Linked DNA regions of Homo sapiens. The protein of the gene in region 2 purifies or fractionates together with the protein of the main gene of each other region. This does not show direct contact. Each region holds a gene or a part of one and is shown on either strand. Other genes may lie near its edges.

Region 1 (8,035 bases), on a different chromosome or scaffold from region 2:
ACGTCAATGCGCTCATGGTATATGGCTGCCAGGTCGGCCCGGCCACTCCTGGAGGGACAGAGGAGAGAGGCATAGGTGAGGGAGGCCCCCGCCAGCTTGCTCCCTTATCACCCCCATAGCACTCTCTGAAGGTGTTCACGCCCCCCGAAACCTTGTCCCTGGGCCAGACAAAGCCAATACCCTAAAATAAATGAGGTCAGATCTCCAAGGGAGAAGCACACACTGAACCAAGAATTGCTGGTCCTGAGCAATTCTTTGCAATCTTTGAACATAGAATTCGCAGTCTTTGAACATAGTGAAGCTTCCATAAAATCTGTCCTTTGGATAAGCCTCAGCATTTCATTGCTTTAGGTACGTGCACATTTAGCATTTCAGATGTGCCTGTTCACACAGTATGGCATCTGTTTAGGTGTCCACACTTCCAGAGTGGGCTTACATGTAGGGAAAAATCCGATTAAACTCAGTGGTGACTTACTATAGTGAGGAGTTTTCATGAATAAAGTTTACCATTGCATTAAAGTTTAACGAATGAACTAATTCTAGGTCTCTTCATGTTAGATACCTCTCCTTAGTGCAGCACTCCTGTCCTGGTTTCCTTAAGGCTATTACTCTATTCACAAACCTCCACATCATCCATTATGTGTGGCAATTTACCTGGTGGCTTTTGGTCAGGAAGCTGTCAACCCCAGATGCTGGGAATCCTGGATTTGTGATGCCTGTGATTCAGGGATTATACACATGTCTTTTGTGAAAGGATGATACGTTGACATTTCATTGACTCATTAGGACCCTATGTCTTCAAGGGCTGAGACCTCTTGCCTGTCTGGAGTTTAGCTGACACATGCTTGCTTGCCAGCTGTTTTCCACAGGGATCTGGTTTCCATCCCAGGTCAGCTCATTTGCAATGAATTGTTTGGGTGAGGAGTGACGAGTAGTCATGCCTGCCCACCTACTACTGGCCATTGACAGCTCTAAGGTCCAGGAACCATTCTAGAAGGACATGTGGCCCCCAGCACAGTCACCTGAGAGCTGCAAGGGGTTCCTAGCCCTGGGGTTTCAGGGACACCTGAGTCTCCCATCACCTTATGATTCTGTCCTGATTTCTTTGCCATGTAAAAAGTTCTTAATGTTCTTTCCATTTTTCTTACTAAAGTGGCTGACTGTTAAGAAAAATGATCCAAAACTTAGAAATAAAGCCTACAGTATGATTGCCTGTCTTCTCAGTGCCATGGTGAGCACTGTCTAATAAGCTTGCTTGAGTCACCAGACTGAACTACTGATTGGAGTTCAGACTCCGGAAACGTAGCTGTTAGCTTGTAGGAAACTGATAAGATGAAAATTATTTTTGTCTGATGGAGAAAGCAGCTCTAACATTATGGTTTGATTATCCTCTATATTATTAAGCATATCTGCATCAAACAATAATTATCACTCATCATTCTCCATCCTTCTGTTTCTTGGTGTGTGTGTGTGTGTGTGTGTGTGTGTGTGTGTGTGTGTGTGTGTGTGTGTGTCTCATTTACTCCTTATAAGCAACTTTGTCATGCTCCTGGTTCCCCTCAGCAAGAAACTATGTTGAACCTTGGCATATTCCTCATACCCAGATGTGCTGAGCATATGACAAGTCTTAATTTTGAAAATTCTCTTTTGACAGGGTCATTGGAACTAGACAAATTCGGGATCAAACTCTGGCTTCTCTTCTAACTAACCTCGAGGCCTCAGATAAATGGCAAGATTATCTCCAAGCCTCCGTTTTCCCATCTGAAAAACCTACTTGATATGGTTTGGCTGTGTCCCCACCCAAATCTCATCTTGAATTGTAGCTCCCATAGTCCCCATGTGTTGTGGGAGGGATCCAGTGGGAGGTGATTGGAGCATGGGGGCTATTCTCATGATATTGCTATTCTCATGATCGTGAGTGAGTTCCCATGAGATCTGATGGTTTTATAAAGGGATTTCCCCCCTTTTGCTTGGCACTTCTCCTTGTTGCTGCCATGTGAAGAAGGACACGTCTGCTTTCCCTTCTGCCATGATTGTAAGTTTCCTGAGGCCTCCCCAGCCCTGTAGAACTGCGAGTCAATTAAATCTCTTCCCTTTACAAATTACCCAGTCTTAGGTATGTCTTTATTAGCAGCAAGAGAACGAACTGATACACTACTCAAAGGGTAACATGGTGTATTAAACAAGCTGATGTGTATAAAGCACTTGACACATAGTAAAAGGGAGGGGAGGGGAAGAAATGCCTCCCATTTCTCTCCTCCTTCCAGGTGGCCCTAGATCGCTTTTCCTGAGTATGTGGCTGAGCAGGCATGAGGAGCCAGTCTCCTAGCCCCAGCCTGATTCCTGCTCCTTCTTCCCTGTACTCTACAGGGAGGAGGGTCCAGGCCAGGACAGGGGAGCTGGCTTCCTGGTGGCCCGTGGAAAGAGTTGTGTCATCCATTCCTTCATTAGTCCAGGCACCACTGAGGCTCTGGGATCCTGAAGGCAGTCCTTTAGAGCTGTCTTCAGTAGCCTGGAGCTTGACAAAGGACCATATCTATACACAGCCTATGGCTGTGCCCACTGTTCCGGCAGCCAAGTTGTTTCCTGACTGACACTTTTGTGAAGCTGCACAGTGAGTCTGCTCTACAAGCCTGGAAGCAGTTGTCCGGCCCACTGTGACCCCCTGCTCTCCTCCACCAACCCCATGAGCCATTCAAGGCTCATTTCAGCTTTAGCACCATGCACCTTTTCCTGCCCACTGAACCACGAATATCCTGCAAATCGGACTTCCAGAAGGATGGGAGTAAGTGATGCAGATCACAAACCCTGCTTCCTTTTCAGCCAGGAAAAAGGGCCGTGTGTGGGGGGCACTGCCTGCAGACTGCCCATGTGTGGTGGGAGGCACATGGCTCCGGTGCCTGGGCTGCAGGCTGCAGAACCCCAGGCCTTAGGATGGCCCCAAAGAGAACACTTGCAAAGAGGCGCGTCTGGACTCCCTGTCGCTGTCTCAATTTCAGGGTGTCTTAGAGGTGTGAGCTGGCAGAGATCAGGGTAGAGGACTGAGGAGTTGACCCTGGAGTGGTTCTCAGGCACCGTGTCCCCAAGGCAGGAGGCCTCCAGAGTCTGAGCCCTAAGCCGCTGTGGAAAGAGCTGGGCTCTTGCTCCACCACTGGCTGGCTTGTGAGGTCCAAGAAGTATTTAACCTTCAGAGAGCCAGTGGCCTCTTTTGTAAGGTGGGGAGAGCAATGCCTACACAATACCACGGACATGAGAACCAAGTGGGTTACTGGATATCAAGCCCATTGACACAATACTAGCCAATGGCTGTTAAAGCACTAATTCCCTTCCCTCCTCCTTTTCCCTATTCTAGAAGTTGTCCAAATTCAAAGGTAGCATTTCACAAGGATATGTCTGGGGTCAGTAATGCGTTATGAGCACTGGAAGGAATGCCTGAATCAAACTTGGGCGAGGGATTCTCTTTCCTACCACAGGCTGACATAGATCCTCTGCTGAAATGTCCCTGAGCAGACCTCTATGTTCAAGATCTTAACAGCCTCTCCTGCTTTCTGTCAAAGCCCATCTATCCTGGGTTCCATTCTCTCTGCCTCTCAAGTTAATAGCAAAGTGGATTAAAAAACACACTCTGTGAGTCTTGTAGTGACTTGGAGAAATGTGTGTGCATGTTTGGGCACTCATGTATGAAAACTCCAAGTGTTCCTCAAATTATAGTTAGGAATTTGCAGTAGAGCTGAACAGAAGTCAAGAGGTGAGCTGTGGCATTCTAGACATGCTCCTCTTTCAAGGGTCTCTGATGGACAGACCAATAAGCCTACATCTTTGCTAGACACACATACCAAGAGACTTAATGATTCCTTTGAGCCACATGATTGCATGGACAAGCTGCTACAGGCAAAGTGCTCTTGACTGGTCTAGACTGTTCTAGACTGGACATCTTCTTCACTCACCTCATTCCTGAAGGAGACAAAGGTTAGATTTCTTTCAAAGAAAAATGTTGACCCACAACTTTCAGGCCTTTATTATTCTTTGTAAGAAGGTGATGAGACATGTTCTAATAATAACACACAGGTTGGCTGAAGGAGGGGCTTCCTGTGTCTTCAGGGGAGGCCCAAGTCATCTCACTGTCTTCCACAGGCAGTATCATCCAGCCTATTATTATTCTTTTCTTTCTCACATGTCAAGAGCTTCCTAGCTTTAGAGGTAGTGGGTCTCCATCTTTCCACCTACTACCCAAAGGGGCTGTTTCTGGTGGCCCTGTTAACTTTGGCAATATGAAGACCCCATGAGACAATTACACTGACCTGGTTTCCATCCGACCCAGGCCTTCACTGCTTCCAGGGCATCATTCTTATTGCAGACCATGTGAATGCCAACCCATGGAGCTCAAGGCCATCTACATAGACCACAATTTAAATACGTGGAGCTGGGCAGTATGGTAATGCCAGGGCACATTAGGTGGCAGCCTAGCTGGGGACCCTTTCCTGGGCTTCCGGTTCTTTGTAGCCCTTTCTTCCTGGTGGAACCCAATACCTATGGTAGACACACACTCATACACCACCACCACCACCACCACCACCACCACCACCAGAACCTTCCCCATTCCTAAATATTCTCCAAGGTAAAGATGCATTTCTATAGCTTCTCTAGAGGAAACAGAGCCCAGCACTTATTCCCCGCTGCATGCTGGTGTCTCTCAGGACAGGGAAGTCTGCTTAGACTGGCCGGTGCCAACCTGCACTGGCACTGCTTAGTAGGCCAGTGCCAACCTGGGATTCTCATGGCTGTGTGCTCTGTGCTCACCCACCTGTGAATCACCGGGTGGTACAGAGTGACAATCCATCAGCTGTTAAGATAAGATGAATGCAAAAAGGATGACATTGCCAAACAGACTGTTGGGTTATTTGGAGGTATCTGTATGACAACTCTAACCCGAAATTTCATATTTGGCACAGCCATGGCCTGTGGGGATGGCTGGCATTCTGGATATGTTGGAAACAGCACTGGTTAGACATGGAGCAATGTCCAAGTGCCAGCCCCACTCATCTGCTACACGTGCTGTGCTATTCTGCTTCACTCGCACAAAACTAGACTGCAGCGCAATATACCGGCTCATCCTTGTGTGGTTCTCCAGCACTCACGGGCAATTATTTCTCCATTTCTATGTGTTTTAAACCTGTTTTCTCTCCGACCTGTCAATGAGAGCATGAACCTTTATGAACCCCACCTCCCTGGACCCTCTTGATAGGTTTCGTGGAAGTGGAATCATTCTAAGAAGCAGTGAAGGCAGGGTGCTGTTTTCTGCTTTCACAGCTCTGTGGGGGTGGCTGCTGCTCACCATGGCATCGGAAGGGCGTGGCAAGAAGAAAATCTATGATTGGTCAGCTCTGTATCTGAGGCAGTTTTAGGGACAGGCCCTTTCATGTGGCTCGTGCTAGTGCTCTGTACACTGTGCCTGGGTATGTTGGTTCTCGGATATGCCCAGCTTGAAACCAGGCTCCTTTTCTTGGGGGGATGAAGGTCCTGTCCCCAGCCTCTTTGCTCTGATTATGGTGGGTCTTCTGCCTGACGCACACAGGAAACCCATTCAGTGTCCACAGTGACCTCAAGTCCACTCCTGGAAACTCAAAAGCCCCCAGCATCTGTAACCTCTCGGTTGCTGATCTCTACTTAATGCAAACTCCCACTTGGGCTCCCATCTTGACTTCCACTTCCAGAGATTTCTGAGACTGACTTCAGGCTTTGTCCTGAACTGTCTTGATCAGTGTCCTTGACAGACTCTTGTGTGCTATACAAGAGAGCATTACTAATTCCTACATTTTTCAAATTGTGTGTCATGGTTCCATGTGGGAGGGAAAAAACAGATTTTGTGTTCTAATATACCCATGCATTTTGTACATGGGTACAAGAAGGGGGTAGGGTAGGCAATTTTCCCAAACTTATTTGACCACATATCCTTCCTTTTTGCCAAATACTGATTAGTACCTTCAGAGACACAATTGTTCACTGACTAATGCTTAGGGAAATGATGACATTTATATTGTTTCTCCGTTGTTTAACAACATAAAAAAGGAGATTCAAACCCTTAGGGATTTTCCTGCTCTCAATTCAACATTTCCAGAGATTGCCCCTGCCTGAAATCACTTGCTCACAATTACTCCCTACTAGCAGTTAACAATCACTATGCAAGACTCTCACCAACTCTCTGACATTATTTCATCTCCACAAAGCCCTCTTAATTCACTTTAGGATCCATGATCAGTCCTGGAAACAAGGAAGAAAATGGTGTGGCTAGAGTTTGGGACACTTACTTGAAGGAGTCAAGAGCATCGCTGACTGCATTGGCAAAATTGATATCCGTTGGGACATTTTTATATTCTAGGCAGTAGGTGGGTCTGACACCCAGAATCTCAACCTCACAGCCTGAGAAGGAAAAAGATGGCAAATAGTTACTCTCTTCAATAAGTAATGTCGAGTTATGAGCCTATTTCAGGAAGCAAACACCATTAGTCAAAATCAAAAATAAAAATGTTGAGTATTTTTATGAACTAAAATAACTTATTGCTAATAAGTGGTGTATTTAACTGTAATTTTGCATAACCAGAGCAGAGGTTCTCAAATGTCATTCCTATGCAACACTGGTGTCCCACATCAGAGACTGGCAAAAATTAGACCACAACTGTCTTTCCCAATTTGAAACAAAACACAATTAATCAATATACACAAATACCTCAATTGAAAATTTCTTCAATAGATTTTTCATGAATCTAAGTCTTTCATGAAAACAAAGTCTTCTAGTGTACTTTTGCCTCTTCTAGAATCAAGTATTAGGTAGCATCTGATTAGTCAGAGGATTATAAAATAAATATTTTACTATCCTGTGGCATTATACAAAAGCTAACTGGACTTAGAGGTACTCTGCCAAATTGGCAAGCTAAGAATCAGTGAGTTCAAGCAATGGGGTCTGAGCCGTACCCTTGCCTGGCCCAAAACAGAGTGAAAGAATCAAACTCATTCCGATGTGAACAGACTCAGCTTTTCTGCCCCAGACTCCTGGACAAGTAGAAGTAGTTGCTCTGCCGAGAAACACCCATCCATATTAGGGAACATAGAACAGGAGAGGGATGTGCCCACCTTGGTTTCTGCTAGTTGAGTAAATATTTATTGGGCATTTACTATGACCGAGTCACTATGTTCAGACGTACTGGAAACAGGAGTGGATCTGGTAGGGTCTCCTTCCGGGAGCATCCCAGAGTTTAGTCTAGTGGGAGGGGACACAGGAAAGTGTGTGGTATGTGAAGTCTAAAGGGAGGTGCATGCTTCCTGGGTGTTGTGGGAATCAGATGAAGGGCACTGACTTCAGGCATCACTTCCTCCTGAAAGCCTTCCTCAGGTCCCGATGTTGGGCTCAGTTTTGTAGATTTAGCCACGGCAGTGGGATGCAGGTGGGCTGGGAGGAAGTCCCAGGCAAAGACAGCAGCTTGACCAAGGGTTCAGAGAACTTCTGAGCAACACTGTATGTGTAGAGAACTGTAAGTACCATAAAATGCCAGACAATGGTGCCAGGAGACCAGATGCTGCTCTTTCTTGTAGCCCAGGGAAAATGATTTCCAAGGTGAGGTAAGTAAAAGTGGGGCAGAGGGAGCGCAGGAGGAAAGGAGGAAGGAGTCCCTGTCAGGAAGCACATCAACCCCACCCCTGGGTACATCTGCCAGCTGGTTACAGCTGATTTAAAAGATGACAGGGCAGCCTCCAGAAAGCATCCCTTCATCTGGCATACTATAGCAAGACCTGGGTGTGTCATGAGAGACCCTATTGCTTTCTGCTTGATATGTTGGATTCAGGGAGAGCAAGGGCTCCTACAATCACTGTGACAGAACTAGAAAAGCAGGAAGTTTCCTTTTCCAAAACATGTTTTTTGAGAGGGAAAAATAGGCTAGGTGACCCAGAAATAAATACTGCTCATGACTTCCAGGAAAATATTCATTAGAGTAAGAAATGTCAGTGGAATCTTGAATGACTATATCACTTTAGATAC
Region 2 (8,035 bases):
ATCCCAGTGACCGCGAACACCGGCTCCTTGTCGCGCCCGGGCGTCACGATGTAGGTGTGCGTCCGCTGCTGGATGCGCTTGATGGTGGCGCCCTTGGGCCCCACCACCAGCCCCACCACCCGGTAGGGCACGCGCACCTGGATGGTGGTCTGTCCGGGAAGGTTGGGCGGGCCCTGGGCGGCGCCGGGCAGACCCCCGGCCTTGCTGCGCGTGGCGCGGATGATGGAGAAGTGTTCGGCCGCCGACAGGATCTCACGCTTGGCCATCTCCACGTCCTCCTTCCGGCCGGTCACGATGAAGACCGGCTCCTCGCCCCGCACTGGGGTCTTGATGTAGGTGTTTGTCTTGGCCCGCAGGGCCTTGATCTTGCAGCCTGTCCGGGAGGGAGGGGAAGGACAAGGTGACCCAGAGCCCCCTGCGCAGCTCAGCCCCGCTGGGCATGCAGGCTGCAGGGCCAGTGAGGGAGCCCCTACCTCCCAGCCTGTGCCCAACAACACTTTATCCTCAGACACGCCACGTCCCTTCTTCCCTCAGCCTCAGTTTCCCCTCTGGGCTCGAGTTTGGCCTAAAAGCAAGACGGCAAGGGGACCCTGTTTTAGGTTGAAAGGTGTGCGCCATAATTTATGTTCCCCTGGAACCGCAGTGTGACGGCTGGGGTGTGAATGTTTCCCCCAAGTTCACAAGCTGGACCCTAATATGCGGCGTTGACAGTATTAATTTAATACGTAGGGTCGGCTGGGCCCGTGGCTCACCCATGTAATCCCAGCACTTTGGGAGGCCGAGGCAGGTGGATCACTTGAGGTCAGGAGTTCCAAACCAGCCTGGCCAACATGGTGAAACCCTGTCTCTACTAAAAATACAAGCAATCATCCGGGTGTAGCGGCAGGCACCTGTAGTCCCAGGTACTTGGGAGGCTGAGGCAGGAGAATCACTTGAACCCAGGAGACGAAGGTTGCAGTGAGCCAAGATTGCACCACTGCACCCCAGCCTGGACGACAAAGCAAGACTCCAACTAAAAAAAAAAAAAAAGCGGGGTGCAGTGGCTCACCCCTGTAATCCCAGCACTTTGGGAGGCCAAGTTGGGTGGATCACGAGGTCAGGGGCTCAAGACCAGCCTGGCCAACATGGTGAAACCCTGTCTCTACTAAAATACAAAAAATTAGCCAGGCGTGGTGGCAGGCATCTGTAGTCCCAGGTACTCGGGAGGCTGAGGCGGAAGAATCGCTTGAACCTGGGAGGCAGAGACTGCAGTGAGCCGAGATCGCACACCATTGCACTCCAGCCTGGGTGACAGAGCGAGACTGTCTCAAAAAAAAAAAAAAAAAAAAAAAAAAAAAAAAAAAAAAGCCGCAATTAGCAAGGTGTGGTGGCGCACGCCTGTAATCCCAGCCACTGGGGAGGGCTGAGGCAGAACCGCCTGAACTCAGGAGGTGGAGGGTGCAGTGAGCCAACATCATGCCACTGCACTCCAGCCTAGCCACAGACCAAGACTCCATTTCAAAAAAAAAAAAAAAAAAAGAGCCACAGTGGCAGGGTCAGTGGCTCACACCCGTAATCCTAGTACTTCGGGAATCTGAGGCAGGAGGATCACTGGAGCCCAGGAGTTTGAGACCAGCCTGGGCAACACAGCAGGACCCCATCTCTACTACAAACAACAACAAAAAATTAGCCAGGTGTGGTGGTACACACCTGTAGTCTTAGCTACTCAGGAGGCTGAAGTGGGAGGATCACCTGAGCCCGGGAGGTGGAGGCTGCAGTGAGCTATGATCACACCACTGCACTTCAGCCTGGGTGACAGAGCAAAGCCTTGTCTCAAAAAAAGAAGGAAAAAAAAAAAAAAGACACACACACACAGAGAAGCTGGCCTTGTGGAGACACAGACAGAGACTGCAGTGATGTCTCTACAAGCCAAGGACTGGCCATAGCCCCCGGAAACTGAAGGCGCCCCCCGCCCTGCCCACACCTTGACTTGGAACTTTTATCTTACAGAAATGAGAGAGGAGACGTTTCCATGGTTTCAAGCCCCCATTGTGTCAGCCCAGAGAGCAACTGGAGACCCTCTGACACCACCTCCCGGCCCAACAGGAGGGGAAGCCGAAATTCAGATTGTGGAAACTGCCTACAATTTTCTTCCGGCCAAATGACCCTCCCTAGGCTACCAAGACCCTGGCCTAAGGGGAGCCGAGGTCTCGGCCCGACTGCAGACGCCCGCACCCTGACTCCAGATGCCTCCGAGGCATCCAGGTGGGCCCTGAGGGGCCTGCTGTGGCTTTGTTCTTGTTGGCTGGGCTGGGGGTCTGACCTGGTGAGGGACATGAGTGTCAGTGTGGGAGGCAGGGCTCTCCTCACCGATTGTGTAGGCAACCGCTGACCAGGTATGGCCTTCTTGGGGTCCCAGACATCCCTACCCCACCCCTGGGGCCTTAATGGTTTTTTTTTTTTTCTTTTCCTTTTTTGAGATTATCTCACTCTTGTTACCCAGGCTGGAGTGCAGTGGTGTGATCATAGCTCACTGCAGCCTTCAACTCCTGGGCTCAAGTGATCCTCCCACCTCAGCCTCCAGAGCTGGCACCACCATGCCCAGCTTAATTAGTTATTGAGACGGAGTTTTGCTCTTGTTGCCCAGGCTGGAGTGCAGTGGTACCATCTCGGCTCACTGCAACCTCTGCCTCCTAGGTTCAAACAATTCTCCTGCCTCAGCTTCCTGAGTAGCTGGGATTACAGGCGCCCACCACCACACCCAGCTAATTTTTTTTATTTTTAGTACAGATGGGATTGCACCATGTTGGCCAGGCTGGTCTTGAACTCCTGACCTCAGGTGATCCACCTGCCTTGGCCTCCCAAAGTGCTGGGATTACAGGCGTGAGCCACCACGCCCGGCCTATTTTTATTTTTAGTAGAGATGGGATCTCACTATATTGCCCAGGCTGGTTTCAAATTCTTGGGCTCAAGCAGTCCTCCTGCCTCGGCCTCCCAAAGTGCTGGGATGACAGGTGTGGGCCACTGCGCCCGGCCCGTGAAGGAGTTTTGAGCCACTGCTCACAACCCCTCAGGCTCTGGGGAAGCAGAGGGAGCTGCAGGGATGTTTCAATACAGTCAGAAGGTGGCTCTGAGGGGAAAACAGTGTTGCTAACTCTCCCACAGTGCAAGAGATGAAATGAGCAGGATCAGCACTTTTGACGGGGAAGAAGTCAGAAACTGCCTGGGCCAGGAAGATGGAAGGCGTGGGACCTGGAGGCTGGTGGTCCCAGGGGCTCGGTAGGGAGGACCCTGGGAGGGGTGGCGGGGGTGCACCCACTCGGAGGAGGACAGCAGTTTTCCCGCCCCAGCTGCACTGCCACCACACCTGTCCCTCCCAGTCGCAGCATTCTGTTCACCTCCATTGCACCCAGTCCCCTCCATTCTTCTGTACAGTCCGGTGTCCCCCTCCTCCAGGAAGCCCACCCTGACTGCATCGGGTTGGGCCTGCTCTTCTGAGTCTCTCCTAACATGCCTGACTCTCTGAGCTGCCTCCCTGAGGCTGGAGGATGGGGCTGGGGATTCCCTCGGCACTTGGGGGACCTTGCTATGCCTGTTTCTTCACTGTGAAAGGGGAAGGTAACAGGCCTGGCTTCACAGGCCCGGCTTCACAGGCCCTCAGAGGGCCATGACCAGGCCGTTGGCTCCTGGCAGCCACCCTGGCAGGTCTCACTGCAGCCCACAGTGTTTGCTTTAGATAGATCCTCCTTGAGGAAGGGAAACTGAGGCACAGGGAGTGGAGACCCAGCAAGGCTGGGGAAGGAGGTGCCACCCACAGATGGAGGCTCCGCTGGCCCTGCCCACAGGCAGGAAGTGAGCCTGTTCCCCATCACGCCGACCCGGCAGAGGGCAGAGCCCGCCAGCGTTGCCAGGGTGCAGCATGGGGTCCTCCCTTGCTGATCTGGGAGCCGCCCCGGGTCCCCAGAGGGTCACACGTGGGAGAGGCTGCCCCGACGTGGCCACCGCTGAGCTCACAGGCTGTGGTCACAGAAAGTCTGGTCTGGGTGAGATGACAAATTTGGGAGATGGAGGTGGCAAGGAAGGGGGCGTGTGACTGTCTGAGCAGAAACCAGGATGGTGCTGGGAGCCACGCGTGCGTCGGGGCAGGGGAGGGAACTGGCGCCTCCCCCTCCCCTTACTCCATCCTGCCCTAACCCAGACGGTGGCGCTGGGTGGAGACCTCACAGCTAGAAGGCCTCTAGGACCTCAAAGACGGAGCTGGAGCTCAATTCATTGGTGCTGCGTCTGCTTTGACACGTGCTGGCCCCCAAAACTCCACCCACATCAAGACGCCAAGGGGCCAAGGAATCGGGGCTCCAGGAGTGATCCCAGCCCACCCCTGCCCCACTGGAAATGACACAGCGAGGCTAGAGGGACAGGAAGCCTGAAGGGCGGGCTCTGGGGGACACCGAAGGTTGGCAGGCACTGAAATGCAGATTCGTGGGCCATGTCCCCAGAATTCCAACTCGGAGGGCTTGAGATGCCTGGGAATCGGGGTGACCACCCCAGAGTCTGGCCCTGACCTGTCCCACACCCCCAACCCACAGCAGCCAAGTCTCCCCCTACCAGGGCCCCACGCAGCACACACACCAGCGGGCATCACTCATCCAGCCCGTCCAGGGTCCTGGCTGCAATGACCGTGCACTACGACTTACCAATGAAACCACAAGTCCTGGTGTGGGAGCCGAGGCCACCAGCCCAGGCTGGATGGGTTTGCCATGGCAGGAAGGGGAATGTGAACCCCAGGGAGCCGCTGAGGCAACAGCAAGGACAGGATTCTAGAAGCAGGACGGGGCGAGAACAAGGCCTCACAGCCAACACTCAGTCCAACACGCAGCCGCCCCCAGCCAGGCAGCCGGGTGACGCGGGACAGCAGCATCCCAGACCTGGGCCACTATGGAAGCCAGCGGGAGCTGAGGGGTCTGGTGGGGAGGAGGGAAGCTGGTTCAGCTGTCAAACAGGGATGTCAAAACCCCCTCCCAGGCCAGGAACAGTGGCTCACACCCGTACGTAGTTCCGGCACTTTGGGAGGCCAAGGCAGGAGGATCACTTGAGGCCAGGAGTTCGAGACCAGCCTGGGCAACATAGCAAGATCCTGTCTCTATAAAGGGTGTCACCTGTCGCCCAGGCTGGAGTGCAGTCACAGCTCACTGCAGCCTTGACCTCCTGGGCTCAAGCCATCCTCTCACCTCAGCCTCCCGAGTAGCTGGGACTACAGTTATGCACCACCACCCCCGGCTAATTGTTTAAAGCTTTTCTGCAGAGACAGGGTCTTATTATGTTGCCCAGGCTGGTCTGGAACTCTTGGGCTCAGGTGATCCTCCCATCTCAGCCTCCCAAAGTGCTAGGATTACAGGTGTGAGCCACCATATCCGGCCTCTACAAAAAATTTTTAAAAATTAGCCAGGTGTGGCCGGGCACGGTGGCTCACACCTGTAATCCCAGCACTTTGGGAGGCCAAAATGGGTGGATCACGAGGTCAGGAGATCAAGACCATCCTAGCTAACACGGTGAAACCCCGTCTCTACTAAAAATACAAAAAATTAGCCGGGTGTGGTGGTGGGCGCCTGTAGTCCCAGCTACTTGGGAGGCTGAGGCAGAAGAATGGCGTGAACCTGGGAGATGGAGGTTGCAGTGAGCTGAGATCGCGCCACTGCACTCTAGCCTGGGCGACAGAGTGAGACTCCGTCTCAAAAAAAAAAAAAAATTAGCCAGGTGTGGACCGGGCACAGTGGATCACGAGGTCAGGAGTTCGAGACCAGACTGACCAACATGGTGAAACCCCATCTCCACTAAAAATACAAAAATTAGCCGGGCGTGGTGGCGGGCGCCTGTAATCCCAGTTACTCGGGAGGCTGAGGCAGGAGAATCGCTTGAACCCGGGAGGCAGAGCTTGCAGTGAGCCGAGATTGCACCACTGCACTCCAGCCTGGGCGACAGAGTGAGACTCCGCCTCAAAAGAAAAGAAAAGAAAAGAAAATTAGCTGGGTGTGTTGGTGCGCACCTGTGGTCCCAGCTACTTGGGAGGCAGAGGTGGGAGGATCGTCTGAGCCCAGGAGGTTGAGGCTGCAGTGAGCTACAATCACACCACTGCACTCAGGACAGAGCAACAGAACCAGACCCTGTCTCAAAAACAACAAAACAAAACAACAACAACAAGAAACCGCTAGGCGTGGTGACTCACACCTGTAATCCCAGCACTTTGGGAGGTGGAGGCAGGCGGATGACCTGAGGTCAGGAGTTCGAGACCGGCCTGGCCAACATGGCGAAACCCCGTCTCTACTAAAAATACAAAAATGAGCCTGGCGTGGTGGTGGCAGATACCTGTAATCCCAGCTACTCGGGAGGCTGAGGTGAAAGAACTGCTTGAACCTGGGAGGTGGAGGCTGCAGTGAGCCGAGACTGAGCCACTGTACTCCAGCCTGGGCGACAAGAGCAAGACCCTGTCTCAAAATGAAAAGAAAAAAACCTCTCGGGGAATGAAGGGAACATGTACACTGTACTAACGCCAGAACTCTCAGTTGGGTCTGCAGTGTGGAGGTTTCCTAGCAGAGCCTTTCTTCCTAGGGCTCTGCAGTGTATGGACAGGAAAACCATGGCATGGTCCCCACCAACACCCCAGCACTGTCCCCAGCTGTCGGGAAAACCTGGGGCCTGCGGGGATGGGAGGAGAAGAGGAGCCTCTGGGGCTGCAGCCAGGAACAAGGGACAGGAGGGGAGACAGTGAGCCAGGGGTCGCCCCCAGCTGAGGGGAACAACCTAAAATCACTAGCCTTAGCCTGTGCCGACAGCAGAGAGAGCGAGCCCTGAGCAGCTTCCAGTCCAGGCCCTGCCTTCAACATCACTCACTCATTCATTCATTCATTAGCCACAGAACACCTTCTGTGTACAGGCCCTGGCAAGACACTGAAGACCCAACCATGACCAAGCACCTGCCCTGGTTCCTGTCCCTGGGAACATGCAGGGGGAGAGGCTGCCACGGAGCACAGATTCACCCAGGGTGCCTGGCAAGCGGGGTGAGAAAGGAGGGTACATGTTGGGGTCTCAGCAGGAGCAGGGCCGGAGGTCCCCTAGAGCACCTTTGCTGGCCGGCTGGAGGGAGACGCCTGTGCTTTTGGGTCTCCACTTTGCCTGTCTCCCAGACAGGGCTGCCTCCCCTCACCCCCAGCCCTCAAGCTTTGGAATCTGAAATTTTCTTTGCTGACCCACCAGAGAAACTGGGTTTGAATCCCAGCCCATGATTTTTGTTTTGTTTTGGAGACAGGGTCTTGCTTTGTTGCCTAGACTGGAGAGCGGTGACAAGATCATAGCTCACTGCAGCCTCGACCGCCCAGGCTCAAGTAATCCTCCTGCCTCAGCCTCCAGAGTAGCTGGGGCTGCAGGAGTGTGCCACCATGCCTAATTTTTGTATTTTTTTTTTTGTAGAGACAGGGTTTCGCCATGTTGGCCGGGCTGGTCTCGATTCCTAGGCTCGAGGGATCCTCCTGCCTCAGCCTCTCTGAGTGCTGCTATCCCCTCAGTTTTTACCTATTCTTTACCTCTTGCAGCCTCTGCCTCCCCATCTGTGACCTGGGAGCTGCAGGACCTTTCCTGGGGCACATTATGGGCCTCAGTGAGATGGGGCAGGTCAAGTCTGGCATAGGCTTAGCACACAGTAGACCCTCAATAAAGATCTAGCCAATGGCCAGGCGCAGTGGCTCACACCTGTAGTCCCAGCACTCTGGGAGGCTGAGGTGGGTGGATCACCTGAGGTCAGGAGTGTGAGACCAGCCTGGCCAACATGGCGAAACCCCGTCTCTACTGAAAATACAAAAACCAGCTGGGCATAGTGGCACGTGCCTGTAATCCCACATACTAGGGGGGCTGAGGCAGGAGGATCGCTTGAACCTGGGAGGTGGAGCTTGCAGTGAACCGGGATCGTGCCATTGCACTCCAGCCTGGGCAACAGAGCGAGACTCCATCCCAAAAAAAAAAAAAAAAAAAGATATAGCAAATGAATGAACTGGAGCCTCCAGCA
Region 3 (7,153 bases), on a different chromosome or scaffold from region 2:
TCATCCCATGGCCTCTCCCCGCAGATCCAGGAAATGACAGCCGGGGTCAGTGAGGAGCAGCACAGCCATGGCCTGGACGACATGCAGCTGCACCAGCTGGCCCTGCACCCAGCGCCCACCTCACTCAGCCATACCTTCCACCGCGCCCTGGACTGCAGGCTGGCAGGCCCCTGCGAGACCAGGGCCACTCTCCCCAGCAAGAGGTCCAGCAACTGTCTCGCCCTGGACCTGTTCGGAGAGGCTCCACCACAGGAGTTTGTGGTGTAGGCACCACCCACCCAGCAGTACCGTCCGCACCGCCAGGCTCAGCCCCTGCCCACCCCACTTCCACATGGCCCTCGTCCCTTCCTGCCCGCCAGATGCTGCCTGCACTTCCGCAGCCAGCACGCTCCACAGGTTCACCTGTAAGAGGTGTGGAGCTGGCTCTGACATCAACCTGGGAGGTAACAAACAGGTCCCGCACCTCATGCCTGTCTGCCATACACCCGGGAGCTCTTTCCCTCAGGGTCTCAGGGAGCCAGTTCAAGGTCTGGCTGTCAAGTGTCCAGAGAGCCATGGTGTTGGCCCCTGAGGCAGCCTGTCACCCATCCTAATCTGGGAGAGAAGGTGACACAGCTGGGCCCAGACCCTGGAGAGACAGCTCTGCAGTTTCCCACACTGTCAGCTCCCCAAGAGACAGTCCTGATGGGCACAGGCTGCCAGAGCTCCCAAGCCGGAGTTCACAGTCATCACTGTGCAGGACCCAGGTTCCTCCCAGACCTGAACCCCTCTCTGCAACTCCTGTTTGCAAGCGCTGGGCCTGCCAGACAGAGGCCCCTCTTGTGGTGCAAGCCCAGCTCTGTCACCTGAGATCCAGCCAGAGACCCTCCTCCACCATCCACAGTCAATGGCTGTGCTTTCCCTTCCAAGCCAGGGCTTCCAAAGACCCCACTGCCCCGGAGCTGAAGCCGACTCTGCTCCCATCTCAGCCATGAGGCCTCAGGACCCACTCTGCTCACAGGTGGCTTCCTTAAGCCATTGCCCTGGCTGGGGTTGGGCTGGTGCAGCCCAGCTGGCGGAGGGGCGAAGCTTTGGTGACAGACGGAGAGTGGGGGACTAGCTGTGCATGGCACCTGCTCTGATCCGGTGGGCTCCACGGGTAGTGCGACCTCGGTTCTGTGGGCTCTGGAAGGCCACCAGGGTAGGGTCTCCCCAGGGCTCCTCCCCCTGCACAACACTCCTGCACACGTGCAAACCTGCTGTCCTCTGCATTTAGAGGAATGGCCCGTGCATCCCTGCTAGTCTCAGGCCCATCCCAGAGCACTGAGAGGCCACAATCGTTCAGCCCTGTGCCCTGAACACCACTGCCCCCTTCACTGTCTGTGTGTGGTGAAGACCACGCCACACCACCCTCCAGCTCACTGGAGACAAGCATGAGCTTGAGCCCCATGGCCTGGTGCAGGGCTGCGTGCATTGAGGCCGCCTCTTTGACGGGTCCATCCAGGGGGACCCTCTCCTTTCTGTGAAAGGGAATCGTGTGTGTGCCCCAGGCACGTGTAATAAAGAACCCGAGCAGATGCCTCCTGCTTGAACCAGGACCAGCCTGCCTGGGGGGCTGGTGAGATGCCGGCTGTAACTCACTCAGGGGCATCGGCCACAGAAGGCTGCGTTCTGTAGATGGCCACAAGCCCCAGTGCTGCCGAGGGCAAGACTGCCCACAATTCCTGTGCGGCAGGGGAGGTGCGCCTAGTGCTGGCTCAGATGTGAGCATGTGGGCACTTCCCAAAGCCATTCCCATTAGTACAAGATGATTGATTTGCCCCGCTCCGGGGCAATGACTATCTTCTTCCTTTGAAGAAACTTGGAAGCAAGAGCCCAGTCCCATGGACCATGAGGGAAGGTACACACCAGTGTTGGGGAGACACAGCAGGTGGTGTCCACCATGAAGCAGGGTCTGAGCCAAGACCTACATGCACACATGCACACATCCACATGCATGCACACACATACATGCACACACGCACACATCTGCACACAGATGCACACGCATGCACACACACACATGCACACATCCATACATGCACACTCCCCATGTCCAGGCTTCCCCTGCCAGTCACCTTCGCCACACGCCATAGACCCCAGGGGCAGCAAAGGCCGGGCCAGCCCACCCCTAACTTGTGGAAGCATCAGTGAAGCTGGCCCGGCGCCTTGTGTCCTGGCAGAGGCGAGGCAGCCATGGCCCCTGGCTGACCCGAGAAGCTTCTCTGGCCCCACTGGGGATTCCTATTTCTGTCCTTCCTCTGGGCCTTGTGGACAGACATGGAGAATTATGCCAGATGCCTGTTAACTACCGGGTAGGGCTGCTCCAAAGACTCTAATCTCTGGTGTTCAGGGTATGTGGAGAGGACAATTAGAGGCCCGCTGCCCTGAGACTTGCCCAAGAGGGGACGGCCAGGCAGGCCACATGAAGCCCATGTGGGCTACCAGCTCAGACACACCCAGCCGGGGCCGGGGCAGACTCCCCTAAGGCTTGAGCCTCAGCTTTGCTCACCGCCCCTCCCCACAGCCCCCTTCCACGTCACCCACACCTGGAGGGGCAGGAGCGGAGCTGGAAGCAGAAGGCCATCCTGGGAGGGGGCTCCTTCCCAGACAGAAAGCAGCAGAGAGCGGGGCTGCGGGAAGTCGGGGAAGCCAACCTTTCTTTTTGCACAGATTGAGATCAGAGGTCTTTTAGGCAATACGGCTATTTTCCAGAAAAATGGACACCGACTGGTAGGGACAGGGATGTTTCCTAAGAAGGAGGGTGGGGGGCAGGGCTGGGGGTGGCCTGCAAACAGCAGAAGCCGCTGTGTACAGGGGGGCTTGTGGCCTTCAGGTGGCATGAGGCAGGCCGGTGGGGGAGGGGCACAGGGTAAAGTCCCCAATCCCTGTCTTACCCTGTCAGTGGAGAGGAAAAGAAAACCACCTGTCCCAGTCCCTGTGGACCCCCAAGGAGCAGGCCAAGGACCTCCAGCATCACAGCCTCGCATGAGCCCGGCTGGGGTGGTCAGTCCTGTGGCCCGGGCCAGGTCAGCGGTCAAGCTGGCAGGTCCAGACTCGCAAGAACGACCCAGAGAGCTTGTTCAGGCTGGGTTTCTCAGCCCCCCACTGCGTCTGCTTCTGTGGGTCTCGCTGGGCCCCGGAACCTGCATTGCTGCTGCGGGGGTCTGGGTCTGAGGGCGCAGCTCTCCCTGCTGGGTGGGGTGTGGGAGGCGGCAGACCCTGCTCCTGGGGGCAGTTGGTCTGGAGTGGTGACAGGGTGGCCCTGGGCAGGGTGTGGCCGGTTCCCTCTTGCCTGTGTTGAAGCATGGACTCCTCTGGGCCCTCAGCCATCAGCCCAGCCTCCCTCACGGAAGATGGAGAATTCCAGACAAAGCTCATCCTTCCTCCAGGAAAGCCTGCTCCATCTGCAGTAATTGACGGCCTGAGAAGCTCTGCTCTTGGGCTGAACCCCAAGCAGGAGGAGGAGGCCGGGGTCCTCAGGTGCCCATCTGGGAGGCCCGGGGCAGCCAGCAACTGCCTGTGTGTCTGGGATCTCACAGGAGAGGTGGTTCCCAAGCCGAGCATCAGCCCGTCGTGGCCCATGGACTCTGGGTTCCCCAGGCGGGGGAAATGTGCCAGAGCCACGGGGAAAGCTGAGCTCTGCGGCCCTGCGAGTGCATTCACAAAGGTTTATCAGTTTGTAAAACTTGCAGAAAAAGCCGTCCGTGTTTGGGACAGGCGGCCCCTTCCACTCAGGGTTCATCCGTCACGCTCCTTTCGCCTTGAGGGGCACTGAGGGCCCTGTGGGTGTGTGGGGCCCGCGTAGGGGAGGCTGAACTGGACACACACTTGGCTCGGTCTGCTGGGAGACGTTTCGGGGTTCCCAGTCATGTCGTCTCTACCTGTAGGAGCAGCAGGGAGTCTCAGGACAGGATGGCCAGGGCCAGAGGTCACCTGGTGAGGCGGACATGTACTCCCAACCTGGGAGGTGTGGGGACTGGAAGAGAAACAGAGCTGGCAGTGGGAGGCTGGACGTGGTAGGCAATGCCGGTCCTGCAGCCGGGCCCATGACCGTTCTCACGGCGGCGAGCTGTGATGGGGAGGCTGCCTTCCAGGTGCCAAGGTTAGAAAACAAATCCGGGGCAGCCCTGCCGGGAGAAAGCTGGTATTCTACAAAGGCGCGTGAAGAGGTGAACACGCAGTGGGGAAAATGGCGCGGGTTAATTGTTTATTAATCACAGGCAGCTCACCAATAAAACCGTCACCAAATATTGTGTTACTGTGTTTTTCAGCTTTTTAAACTTTGTGATGTGGTGGTTTTTTAATGTTTCTGTATTTAGATTTATTTTCATACTTTAGAATTTGTAATCTTATCTTTTGCCCTGAAGGAGGGCTCCCCATCACCATCTAACCATGGAAGTTTCAGGCCTCAAAACGGGGCCCAGGGTGAGGACTCCTCTGATCTCAGAACCTTGGGTCACACAGCGGCTGCCATTCCCTGCTCACATCCCCTGGCTACGGATGAGGCCCCCGGGCCACTGGGCACAGGCTGGGGCTCCCTCCCGGCTCGCCGCCGGCCCATGCCTGGTTCTCCAGCCGCCCCAGGGTGGCAGTGTTCATCCTGAGTCCCCTCCTGGCTCTGCCCTGGCATCTGTGCTCAGGTGACCAGCCAGGCCTCCCGCTGGCAGGGGTGTGGTTCTCTCCATTCAGCCACTGCTGCTGTCACAAACCAGTGCACGCAGCAGGAACTGGACGTCACCGTCACCAAGTGGGGACCTGTTCGCCGCACCCTCTGTTGTCTGTCCTTGGACATCAGGGCCATTGTCCGCCCACAGCCCTGGACATCCACGCTGTTGGGGCGGCGGCAGGGCCTGGCGCAGTGGGAGAAGAGGAAGAAGCATGTCCTCAGAGCCAGATGCAGGAGTGTGCCCTGTGGGGTGCGGGCCAGGCTCCCTCCTGAGCGGACATGGGAACACGTAACAGTGGGAACAGGCCGGCCTCCAATGGGGGCCTCTGCAGGAGGTGGGCTGGGAGGAGGACGCGCCTCAGGAGCCTCCGGGATGCTCTTTATGGCCAGGCACGGTGCTTCACACCTGTAATCTCAACACTTTGGGAGGCCAAGGTGAGCGGATCACTTGAGACCAGGAGTTTGAGACCAGCCTGGGCAACCTGGCAAAACCCCATCTCTACAAAAAATATAGAAATAAAATTAGCCGGGCATGGTGGCGCCTGTGGTCCCAGCTACTCGGGAGGCTGAGGTGGGAGAATCACTTGAGCCCAGGAGGTCAAGGCTGCAGTGAGCTGAGATCATGCCACTGCACTGCAGCCTGGGCGATGCAGCAAGACCCTGTCTCAAAAAAAAAACCAAAATGCTCTTTGTTCTCTGAGGAAGGGGCTGCCCAGCAGAAGGTGGTGGGAGGGCATGAGGCTTTGGCAGCCCTGACAGTGCATGGGTGGAGTGCCCACCTGTGGGCTGGGGTGCAGGTCTGGGAGGCCGGCACTGTCCCCCTCGGTGGCAGGTGTGTGAAGTGAGGCATCCAGTGGGGGTCCGGGGCCGCCTCCCCGCAGCCTGTCCTTGTGTTTTGCTTCTCACATGTGATTCCTGGGAGCAGGTGCCCTGGGCTCCCAGAGAGGCTGCAGGACACACACCAGCCCCGGCGTGTCCACTGCACTGTGTCTTCCCTCTGGTCACTACAACAGATCTTCATAGGCCGTGTGGCCTCACTCTGCCCACTCCTCATGATTCTGGAGGCTGGAAGTCCAGGATCGAGGTGCCGGCCAGTTCCATTCCTGGTCCAGGCCCCCTCCCTGGCCGCTACGTCTTCTCAGGGCGGAAGGGGCTTGCGAGCTCCCAGGGCCCCCCTTACAAAGGCACTAATCCCACCCGTGAGCCTCCATCCTCACAACCTCACCGGCTCCCACAGGCACCCCCTCCTAACACCATGGCCTTGCTGGTGAGGATTCCCACACAGACGTCGGGGGGCGCACTCAGCCCACCCTGCATTACACGCTGGGACACATCCGGCTCATCAGTCTCCATCCCGGTCTTGGGATCTTCAAGGCAGGAGCCTCCGGCCTTGACTGCAGTTTCCTCGGTGCCAAAGCAAGACCCCGGTACAGGAGGCAGCCAATAAATGGGCACAGAACAGGTGAAAGAGGGAGGGAGGGCCAGCGGATTGGTGCTCTGTGCACCTCAGTGGGCAGGGCTGGCTTGCTCTGGCTGTGCTAACTGTATACACCTCCTTGTCCACCCAGGCTGAGCCACAGTCCACATGGCTGTGATGGAGCTGAAGCCCCTGCTGAGGGGCAGCTGGCGTCCGGCCACGCCCACCCCACATTGTTCTGGCCCCCCCCACCCCATCCCGGGGCTTGCCCGAGGAGCATGGCTGAAACTACAGAACGTCCCTAGCACTTCAGGGAAACAGATGTAAAATATCCGTGGGTTTTGGCCAAGCTCCACCAAGAAAGGAGAAGGTCCAGGGAGTTATGAGACCCCCAGGGCGTCGGTCACCCAGGTCCTGCCCACTGGGCTAACAGCTCACTGGCCTCCCACAGCAACACCCCCAGGGTCAACATTCCACCACCTCGGTCTCCACAAATGAGGTGTCTTCCATTTCTGCTAACTAAGCAAAGTCAGCGACTGGATTACAAGTTCCCAGGCCCAGGGCCTTGGCCACGGCAAGGCTGCTGGGCTCACACTGTGCTGAGGAGGCCACGGCTGCCCCAGCCACACATGGGCCCCCGGCTTGCCCTCCGTGCGCTCCTCCTGCCTCCTCCGACCGCTGCTCTTTCCCCGAGTATCAGGGCTGGGCCAGGCTGTTCTCGAAGTGAGGTCTGCAGTTAATTCGGATTGTGAGACGAGCCTGGTCCCAGACAGTCCTGAGGGAGCATCCAGGGCCGCAAGCCTCACTGCACGGCCTCCCACCACTCCCCAGGGCCTGTTCCTGGCTACGGGGGAGGGGCACAGGCAGCCTGCGGAGGAAAGAGCAGGCAAGAGAGATCTGGGGGAGCCAGGCGTCCCCCCCATATCTGGCCCCCTCCTGCCTCACACTAAACGATGGCCAGGGCGGGACTCTGGGCACGCAGGGACCTCCGGCGAGTACCAACAGGCCCGGGGGCTGGTGTCTGTGACGCTCTAGGACGGCAGCGTGCG
Region 4 (8,035 bases), on a different chromosome or scaffold from region 2:
TGGGGTTTAACTCTTAGTATGTCTGACCCTAGGGCAGGTGTGCCTGTCCATTTGACTGTACTGCCTTGCCCTGAGCTGGACTGGCTGGTTATTTGTGAGTGCTGTCATGTCTAAGGTAGGAGTGACTGCCCATCTGAACTTAAGGGACCATGTTGCTGTTTTCTGGGTCCATGTTGCGTTCCTCCCTCTGGTGAGATCCAGCCAGGCGTGTCATGGACCTGCTTTATGAACCTTTGGTGTAACCCATGATAAAGTCCTTAACCTGGGCAGGCATGTTCTTCCTGGGCAAAGTGTGGCTTCCCTGTTTGGGAGTCCATTGCACTTTAAGGTAACAGATTATTGAGTAGGACTGGATAGCTGCAATATCTAGCAGAGTGTGTTTTGGGTTTGACTCTTGGTTCTGTCATTGATTTGCTGTCAGATGTCAGATATGTAGGAAACCTTCTCTCAGCCTCAGCTGTTTGTCATTTGTATCTATCTTATATCTGAAATGGAGGTAGTTATCTAGCTTAGAAGGTTTGGGTGAGAATTAGATAGTAGAAATGAAAGATTTTTGGAAACAAATAGTGCTTATCTCAGACTATGTTCCCAGGAAACAGCCTGAGACAGAGCTTAAGTACTTAATGCTTTATTGGAAGGTGTAATTGCAGGGCAGCCAGGGTGAGGGAAAACAAAAGTGAGGTGCAGGCCTGTGCGATGGCTCATGCCTATAATCCCAGCACTTTGGGAGGTCGAGATGGATGGATTGCCTGAGGTCAGGAGTTTAAGACCAGCTGGCCAATATGGTGAAACCCCATCTCTACTAAAAATACAAAAATTAGCTGGGCATGGTGGCACACACCTGTAGTCCAAGCTACTCAGGAGGCTGAGGCAGGAGAATCCCTTGAACCTGGGAAGTGGAGGTTGCATTGAGCCAATATTGTGCCACTGCACTCCAGCCTGGGCGACAGAGCGAGACTGTCTCAAAAAAACAAAAGAAAAAAGTGAGGTATAAAGGAGGATGGGAGGTGGTGTTTTAGCAAGCTGGCTACTCTGCACAGAGATGTACTTGGTTACCCTATGAGGGCCCTTTGGTAGCCACTGGGGAGGCCAGTCTGGTACTTCAACAGAGTCTGGAGATAGTGAGAGGAGCCAGAGATTCTGGCGTGGGCCTGGATAGTCTCCTCCACTGGGCTGAGGCAAAGTAAATACCCTGGGACCTGGGAGATGGGTGAGACCAAGAGGTTGCAAGGTGGGACGTAAGATGCATCCAATATAGTGGTATATGGATTTTATCCTCAAGTGTAGTTCCCTTTTGTGGGTTAGTCTCATCCAGACTGCCAAGTCTCTGCCAAGACTATGACTGAAAACCCAACTTGGCTTTTGCATGTCAGTTTTAACAGCCTTCTCTGCTACTTCATTGTCTAGTTACTGAAGCAAGACTTTGTGGTGGTGATGGTACCCAGGTGGGGAAGTGGAAGTCAACCACTATTCATGTACCAGACTGAGAAAGTATGTGGATAGATACAGATAAACATCTTGGCTTTATTAGGTTCTTCGTGAAGGAGAATATTTTTTCACATAAAGTAGTTGTTGAAGATACGAAACCTGGCATGGTGAGATGAGGCTAGAGAGGGCAGTAGGGCCTGGTCACACACTCAAAAGGACCCTTTGGGCTAAAGAGTTTGAACTTTATCTTGACGGCAGTAGAGAGCCAAAGGAGGGCTTTGATAAACCATGCTGGCTACTTTGTAGAGCAGAGGTGGGAGGAAGGCCAGATGACATGTGGAGAGGCCAGTGTAGTGGGGGCCAGGATGCCTGTAGGGGAAGTTAGGGGTGGCTCAGATCAGGGTGATGACTGAGGCTAAGGAGAGTAGGGTACCCCCCATACTTGCCTAGGGTGCCGTGGCAGCAGCTTATAGGCCTGAATGGACATCCATGTGCTTTGGTGGCAGGGTCTCCTGGAGCCTCTGGATCCTCTTAGGCTGAACACACAGGTCCTTTCAGCCCTGTTATCCTAGAGTTGGAGGCAGCGGGGAGCCGTGTCCAGTTAGGTTTTCCCCCTTCACAGAAGGCAGGCAGGTTCTTGTTCAGTGCCAAGCAAGACCAGTTTGTTCTCAGCAAGCTCATGTTCTGTCTCTAGGCTGTTAAATACATTGTTAAAACTCAGGCTGTTGCATTTGGGTTGCAGCTGGGAGCTTGGCAGAGATTCTGCCTGATGAGGTAAGGAGAGAAGCTAAGGACGCTGCTGGTTTGCAGCTGGAAACATCTTTTCATGGCCATTTGGCCAGATTGTAAATGTCTTTTCCAAAGTTCAGGTTTGGTGGGACCTCTGGTTGTATGTCTTGGAATTGCCCTGTGTTTAGAAACAGTGCCAGTCGCCTGATGGGTGAATCACTGTTGCTGGGATGTTGGCAGGTTTTGCAGGACTTTCCTGTGGGGGTCCAAACACTAGGGCTGGCAGGGCCCGTTTGGAGTCTGTTTGAGAAGGGCCTGCTTTGTTTTCTTTACATTTTAAGCATATGATAAAATAATTTTAAAAATTGCTATAGAATTTCTTGTAGAAAGATTAGAGAAACAAGCATAAAAATAAAAAGAAATTATTTCACCAAGATATAGCCAGATGTATGACTCTTTTCTTGCATCTCTCTATATACACATATACATTAATTTTTCCTTACAAAAATGGAATTATAGAGTGCATATTATTGGGGCCCACTTTTCTCACTTAACAGTATGCTTAGATCTCTTCATGTTGATATATAGTATTCATTTTTAATATACTCCATAAAAACTCATTGTATAGAAGAAATGTAAAATCTTCTATTGTTGTAGTTTCCTAATTTGAACAAGTCTGTGGTGAAGTATTTTTTGTTGTGTTCCTGGTATGGGACAGACATTGTTCTAAACTCTGGGGATGCAGCACAGATAAAACTCAGTATTGGTTTTCTGCTCAAGATGTCACTTTGTTTTTCATAAAAGTGGGTTTGACATTGTTCACCTCCAGACTTATTCCAGTTGGATTCTGAGGGTTTCTGGGAGGGCTTTTAGCAGCACTGGACACTTTGTAGGGGCACTCAGCAGGTACACATACTTTCACCTACTCTGTCTTAAGCAAGCTGTGGGCATAGTTATGAGATGGGTTGGAGGTTGGCCTTTCCCACATTGTGGGGCACAGTCCCTCTCGGATGCTGCCTCCTCCCAATCTGACTCTAATTAGAGGACTTTTTGTACAGAGCCTTTTGAGTTAAGGGGCCCAGGCTTGGGAGAAATGGGGTAGGGCTCCAGAGTACCCCTGCCAGAGATGTCAGTGTTGATGTGGTAGTCTGGGAGCTGCTGCTTGGAGGTGCCCAGCTCTCCAGGCTAGCAGAGTTAGTTATCCCCTTCTCCCACCAGAGCAAGACTTTGCAGGCTCTTGGTAGGTAAGTCATCTGTAATTACCTGTGATTCTTTGAGGCTCTGCCCAAACCCCATCTGTGATTCTTTGAGGCTCTGCCCAAACCCTATCTGTGATTCTTTGAGGCTCTGCCTCCAGGCTGAGATTCAAGAATGGGCTCAGTCTAAGCCAGATCGCACATTCCAGAGAAATCACAGCTGGTATTCATGTAATGAAGAAACCTGGCTTTCCCTGAGTGTTGTGAGGTATGAACCGTAGATGATAGGAGCAGAATGATTTGAAAGGAATGGACAGACTTCCTCCCTGGAATTTATCTGGCCTCTAAAAAGGTATGCAACTGCAACTGGAGACACACCTGGGTAGAGATGCTGGGTTCCCCACTTCCAACCATGTCTGGTTTGGAACCTGCCTGGGCCCTGTTCTCCCACCACCCCAGCTCTGAGGAGCAGTCAGCTGGTCCCTTTCTGATCACAGATACATCCTCCCAGCTCTATGTTTTCACTGTCCCCTCCCTACATACATACAGAAGGTGCTGAGCCTGAGCCAGTCAAGCCTTTTGAGGAACAAGAAACAGACACCCAATCCCTTAGGTATAAGGGGCTTGTGTAAGCAAGAGAGAAGCCTTCTGAAATCCTGGGATAGAGAAGACAGTATAGTAAGGCCTTGGAGCAGACCTGTGGCTAGAACCAGGAGGGCCTGGACTCTGCCTCAGGGCAAGCCCAGGCTTACTCACTTTCTCTTGATGACTTGCTCTCTTCTGCTGCTCTAACTCCCTAATGGACCCCTTAGCACAATACGCCCTACCCTGCAGCAGGTTCCAGGTTGGAAGATAATTGTCCTGTGTGTCTTGGGACCCCCACACCTAGACTATGACAGGAAGACTGTCAGCTCTGCAGACATTTGGCATAGGCATGAACACATGGCGCCATTCACTTATGCTTTCCTTCTGATAGAGGATCCATTTGCAGATGGGAGTTGTGGTTGGCCTTCTCTGAGCCTAACCTGGAATCTCAATGGATTAGGATTTCTTCTGAAAGAGTAAGATGAGGAATGGTGGGTGTGCTGTGTGTCTAATCAAGTATGGCGGGCAAAAAACTGATGAACTGGCATTATCTTAGACTTAGAATTCTGTCAGATAAGGCTTATGTTTTTTTGGGAAAGCATTTGTATTTCCTTTGTTTTGCTTGCTTTGTCTTAGTGAATTTCCATTTGAGCACTCCAGTGGGGTGCTCAAAAGCAGGGCAGGAAGAAGACCGGCAGAGCTGGGGTACAGATGGGTGCTAATCCTCCAGCACAGTCTAGGCTGCATGGCTGAGCTGGGAGACGGTATCGGAGGCTTCTGTTGTGGACTGAGGTTTACTGCCAGTGGGGTTTGTCTCAGGTTGTGCCTATTTCTGGGCTGATGAGAAGACAGTAGCTGGCCCCTTTCCCATGTCAGCAGCCCAGCCTGAGGTTTTGGCCATGTGTGCCATATTCATTTTTGTATCCTGAGTGCCTAGATCAGTGCCTGGCATCTGCAGGTCTTCAGTAAATATTTGTGAATGAATGGTGACGGGCCAGTGAGAACAGTGTCTGCCAAGGAGCCTTACTACAGGAAGAACACTGTCTACCTAGGAGACTGTCTCCTCTGACTGCTCTTTCTCTGGCAGGTGCAGACTGACAAGGGTTAGTTTTATTCCTCTTCTGGCTGGCCATCTGTTGTACACCTTAGTTTGGGTGTTGGTACTCTGGAGGATATTGTGTCAAATTATCTTTCTGTTATTGTCTCTCATGTACTGTTGCCTCCTTGTGGGCAGGGACTGGTTCCCCAAAACCTGGCACTGTCCTGGCATATGTGTTGGAAGGTAAGATAGAAACAAACAGCAGTCTGTGAAATAAGAAGGAGTGGGCCAGAATCTTGGACTGACAGACCATTGGAACCCGAGCTGACTGTACCCCACTGCGATTCCGCCTTCTCATGGTACAGGTGGTTGCTGGGAGTTGAGAGGATGGGCTCTCTCCGCAGGGCACGTGACTTCCCAGAGCAGGGACCAGAATTGAGCACACATCACTGGCTGCACGCTCTTTGTTCTTTCTGCTGTTTGTCCTTTTTAGCTTCTGTGTGCTAGGCCAGGATTTTGATATGTTTGATTATCTGCATATGTGTGTACATGCCTATGTGTCTCCTCACCTAAATTAGTCTTTTTCACTTTGTTGATCCAGTGATTGTCATTGAATGCCTTTCAGACACTTCCCTCTGTGACCATGAAACTCTGGGTGTCTGCATTGCTGATGGCCTGGTTTGGTGTCCTGAGCTGTGTGCAGGCCGAATTCTTCACCTCTATTGGTACGTGCCAACAGGACTGTCGTCTCCCTGACACCTTGGCTCACATGCCACGGATGTCTCTGGCTGCAGCCTGTTCTCATTTAGAGTGGGATAGCCTTAACTACTGGTTTTGGCCAGTTCTGAGGAGAGTGGAACTGGCAGAGTTGCTGTTTTCCCCTATAAGATCCCAATGATCTGGATGTTCAGGGAGCCAGATGTCTGAATTGGGTCTTTCTTCCTGGGAAGTGCAGGCTGCACTTGGGCTCTCTGGTCTTTTTGACCACCTTGCCCATGGACCAGAGAGTGGTTCTGAGCAGCAAATCCTTTGTATCCTGAGGATCAAGCTTTTCCTATCCTTCCGACCTAAAGTTCAGAGCTTTTTATCCTGTGGTGAGCCCCCAGGATATCCATGCCCCAGTGTCATGACCAGCTATGTAACAGTCGGAGAATGAGATTTAGGGCTGCTTCTTGAGTGACATCCAGTGCACTTATCTCAAACATCCCCTTGGTGCCTCTGCCTCTTTCTTCCTGAAGTTGCGAGATAGAGCCCCATGAGTGCCTAGGCCCCCTTTAACTCCAAGTCCCCATAATCCTCAGAGAGCTGACATGTTCTTATCCCAGGGGACTTGCTTCTGTGCTGGTATTCTGTGCCCCAAGGAAGGAGGCTGGACATCCCTCATCTGTTTCTCACTGGTGTCTTTCTTCTCTCCCTTGCAGGGCACATGACTGACCTGATTTATGCAGAGAAAGAGCTGGTGCAGTCTCTGAAAGAGTACATCCTTGTGGAGGAAGCCAAGCTTTCCAAGATTAAGAGGTGTCCTAAGTCCCCAACCATCCTTAGTTGGCCTTCCTTCCCTTCTGCCCCTCAAGGAACAAGGAAGCCATCCAGGGTGCCTATAAGAGGAAACCTTTGAGAGGGTGATGTGGGGCTGGCCTGGTTACTTCATGCCAGTGCTTGAGAGGAGCTAAGTACATGGGCTAAGGAGTCACTGTTTATTTTCTATTTAAGACCTTTTCCCTTACATTGGGGGTCCCAGCTGTTATCTAGATTAAGGGGCTAGAAGTATCTGTGGGGAGTTACTGTATTCATTTTTCATTGCCTCTTGATGAAAAGGGCCCCAGAACCTGGCACCAGGGAATTCTCACTAGGAAAATTGTCACAGGTCAAGACCTATGTGGGTGGACGCATTAGTCTTCCTTTTCCTCTGGTTCCACAGCTGGGCCAACAAAATGGAAGCCTTGACTAGCAAGTCAGCTGCTGATGCTGAGGGCTACCTGGCTCACCCTGTGAATGCCTACAAACTGGTGAAGCGGCTAAACACAGACTGGCCTGCGCTGGAGGACCTTGTCCTGCAGGACTCAGCTGCAGGTGAGGGACGGTGAGCAGGTGCTTGAGTGAGCCCATATGTTTGTGTGCTCATGCCTGGGTTGTTGTGTCTGAGCCTGTCTTGGGTCTGGGTGTTGGTGGGCAAGTACATTGTGGAAACAGGACCCTGCTGGTCTCATGGCTCTCTCCCTTCTCTGTGGGGACCTGGAAGTTGGCTGGCCTTGGTTTTTAACATGTAATGATGTTCAGTTCTTTTTTTAGCGTCTTTTTTTTAGTGTCTGTCTTTTCTTATTTTTTGCTAATGACATTTTTCCAATTATACTTTAGTGATACATGTTTATAGAAAAGTCGGAAAACACAAAAACAAGAGAATTATAATTCTTAATCCAGTTGCCCAGTGGTGAGCATTATTAAAATTGTAGTTTTTCTACCTATGCATATACATTTAAAAAATGGAACTATACATACATACCAGGGCATGCAAACTCAGTTGCTTGGAGGGACAATGAATTTACAAGTGTCAAGTGGGCTGGATGGTGGGGCCAGGGCAAGTTGGGGAGCATAGGTCTGATCTAAATTCATTCCTATTCATATGTTTTACAAACAAAGCATATCTGTTGGTAGATTTGTGACAGAAGAAAAAATTCTGTGAATTTCTCAGCTTCTTTATATGCCATTCAATGTTCTTCTGCAACATGATTTTAATGGCTGGATGGTGATTACCTGTCAGATGGTGATAATCTGTCATACTGATAATACTGTCAAATGGGTCAAGTCATTGGATATGGGATTTTTTCTGAATTATCAGCACCTTTTTACATATTTCTTGGTGTATACTTCTGATTACTTTTTTAGGGTAAGTTCCTAGAAGTGATATTACCGATGAGAGTGTGAACTTTTTAAAAGCTTTAAACTATACTTGGTGCTTTTATTGTGATAATACTTTTTATGCCCTAATACTTTTCTGTCAATAAGAAGAGATGGTACGGTGGGCCTGGAGGTGGGCTCTCCTAACTCCTAGCCCTGG

Evidence for each region.
Region 1: the proteins of MEX3D (region 2) and ENPP6 purify together in Homo sapiens (co-immunoprecipitation; one large-scale study listed by IntAct). This does not show direct contact.
Region 3: the proteins of MEX3D (region 2) and FRMD1 purify together in Homo sapiens (co-immunoprecipitation; one large-scale study listed by IntAct). This does not show direct contact.
Region 4: the proteins of MEX3D (region 2) and P4HA2 purify together in Homo sapiens (co-immunoprecipitation; one large-scale study listed by IntAct). This does not show direct contact.

Annotation. Positions count from the first base shown.
Region 1 is NC_000004.12:184,117,853-184,125,887, forward strand, and holds part of ENPP6 (glycerophosphocholine cholinephosphodiesterase ENPP6 precursor), read right to left. Parts: intron 6,421-8,035; coding exon 6,309-6,420; intron 49-6,308; coding exon 1-48. UniProt on the Homo sapiens protein: Choline-specific glycerophosphodiesterase that hydrolyzes glycerophosphocholine (GPC) and lysophosphatidylcholine (LPC) and contributes to supplying choline to the cells.
Region 2 is NC_000019.10:1,556,551-1,564,585, forward strand, and holds part of MEX3D (RNA-binding protein MEX3D), read right to left. Parts: intron 374-8,035; coding exon 1-373.
Region 3 is NC_000006.12:168,050,211-168,057,363, reverse strand, and holds the end of FRMD1 (FERM domain-containing protein 1), read left to right. Parts: intron 1-24; coding exon 25-267; 3' UTR 268-4,269; downstream 4,270-7,153.
Region 4 is NC_000005.10:132,216,212-132,224,246, reverse strand, and holds part of P4HA2 (prolyl 4-hydroxylase subunit alpha-2 isoform 2 precursor), read left to right. Parts: intron 1-5,602; 5' UTR 5,603-5,620; coding exon 5,621-5,702; intron 5,703-6,328; exon of another isoform or gene 6,329-6,398; coding exon 6,399-6,495; intron 6,496-6,898; coding exon 6,899-7,050; intron 7,051-8,035. UniProt on the Homo sapiens protein: Catalyzes the post-translational formation of 4-hydroxyproline in -Xaa-Pro-Gly- sequences in collagens and other proteins.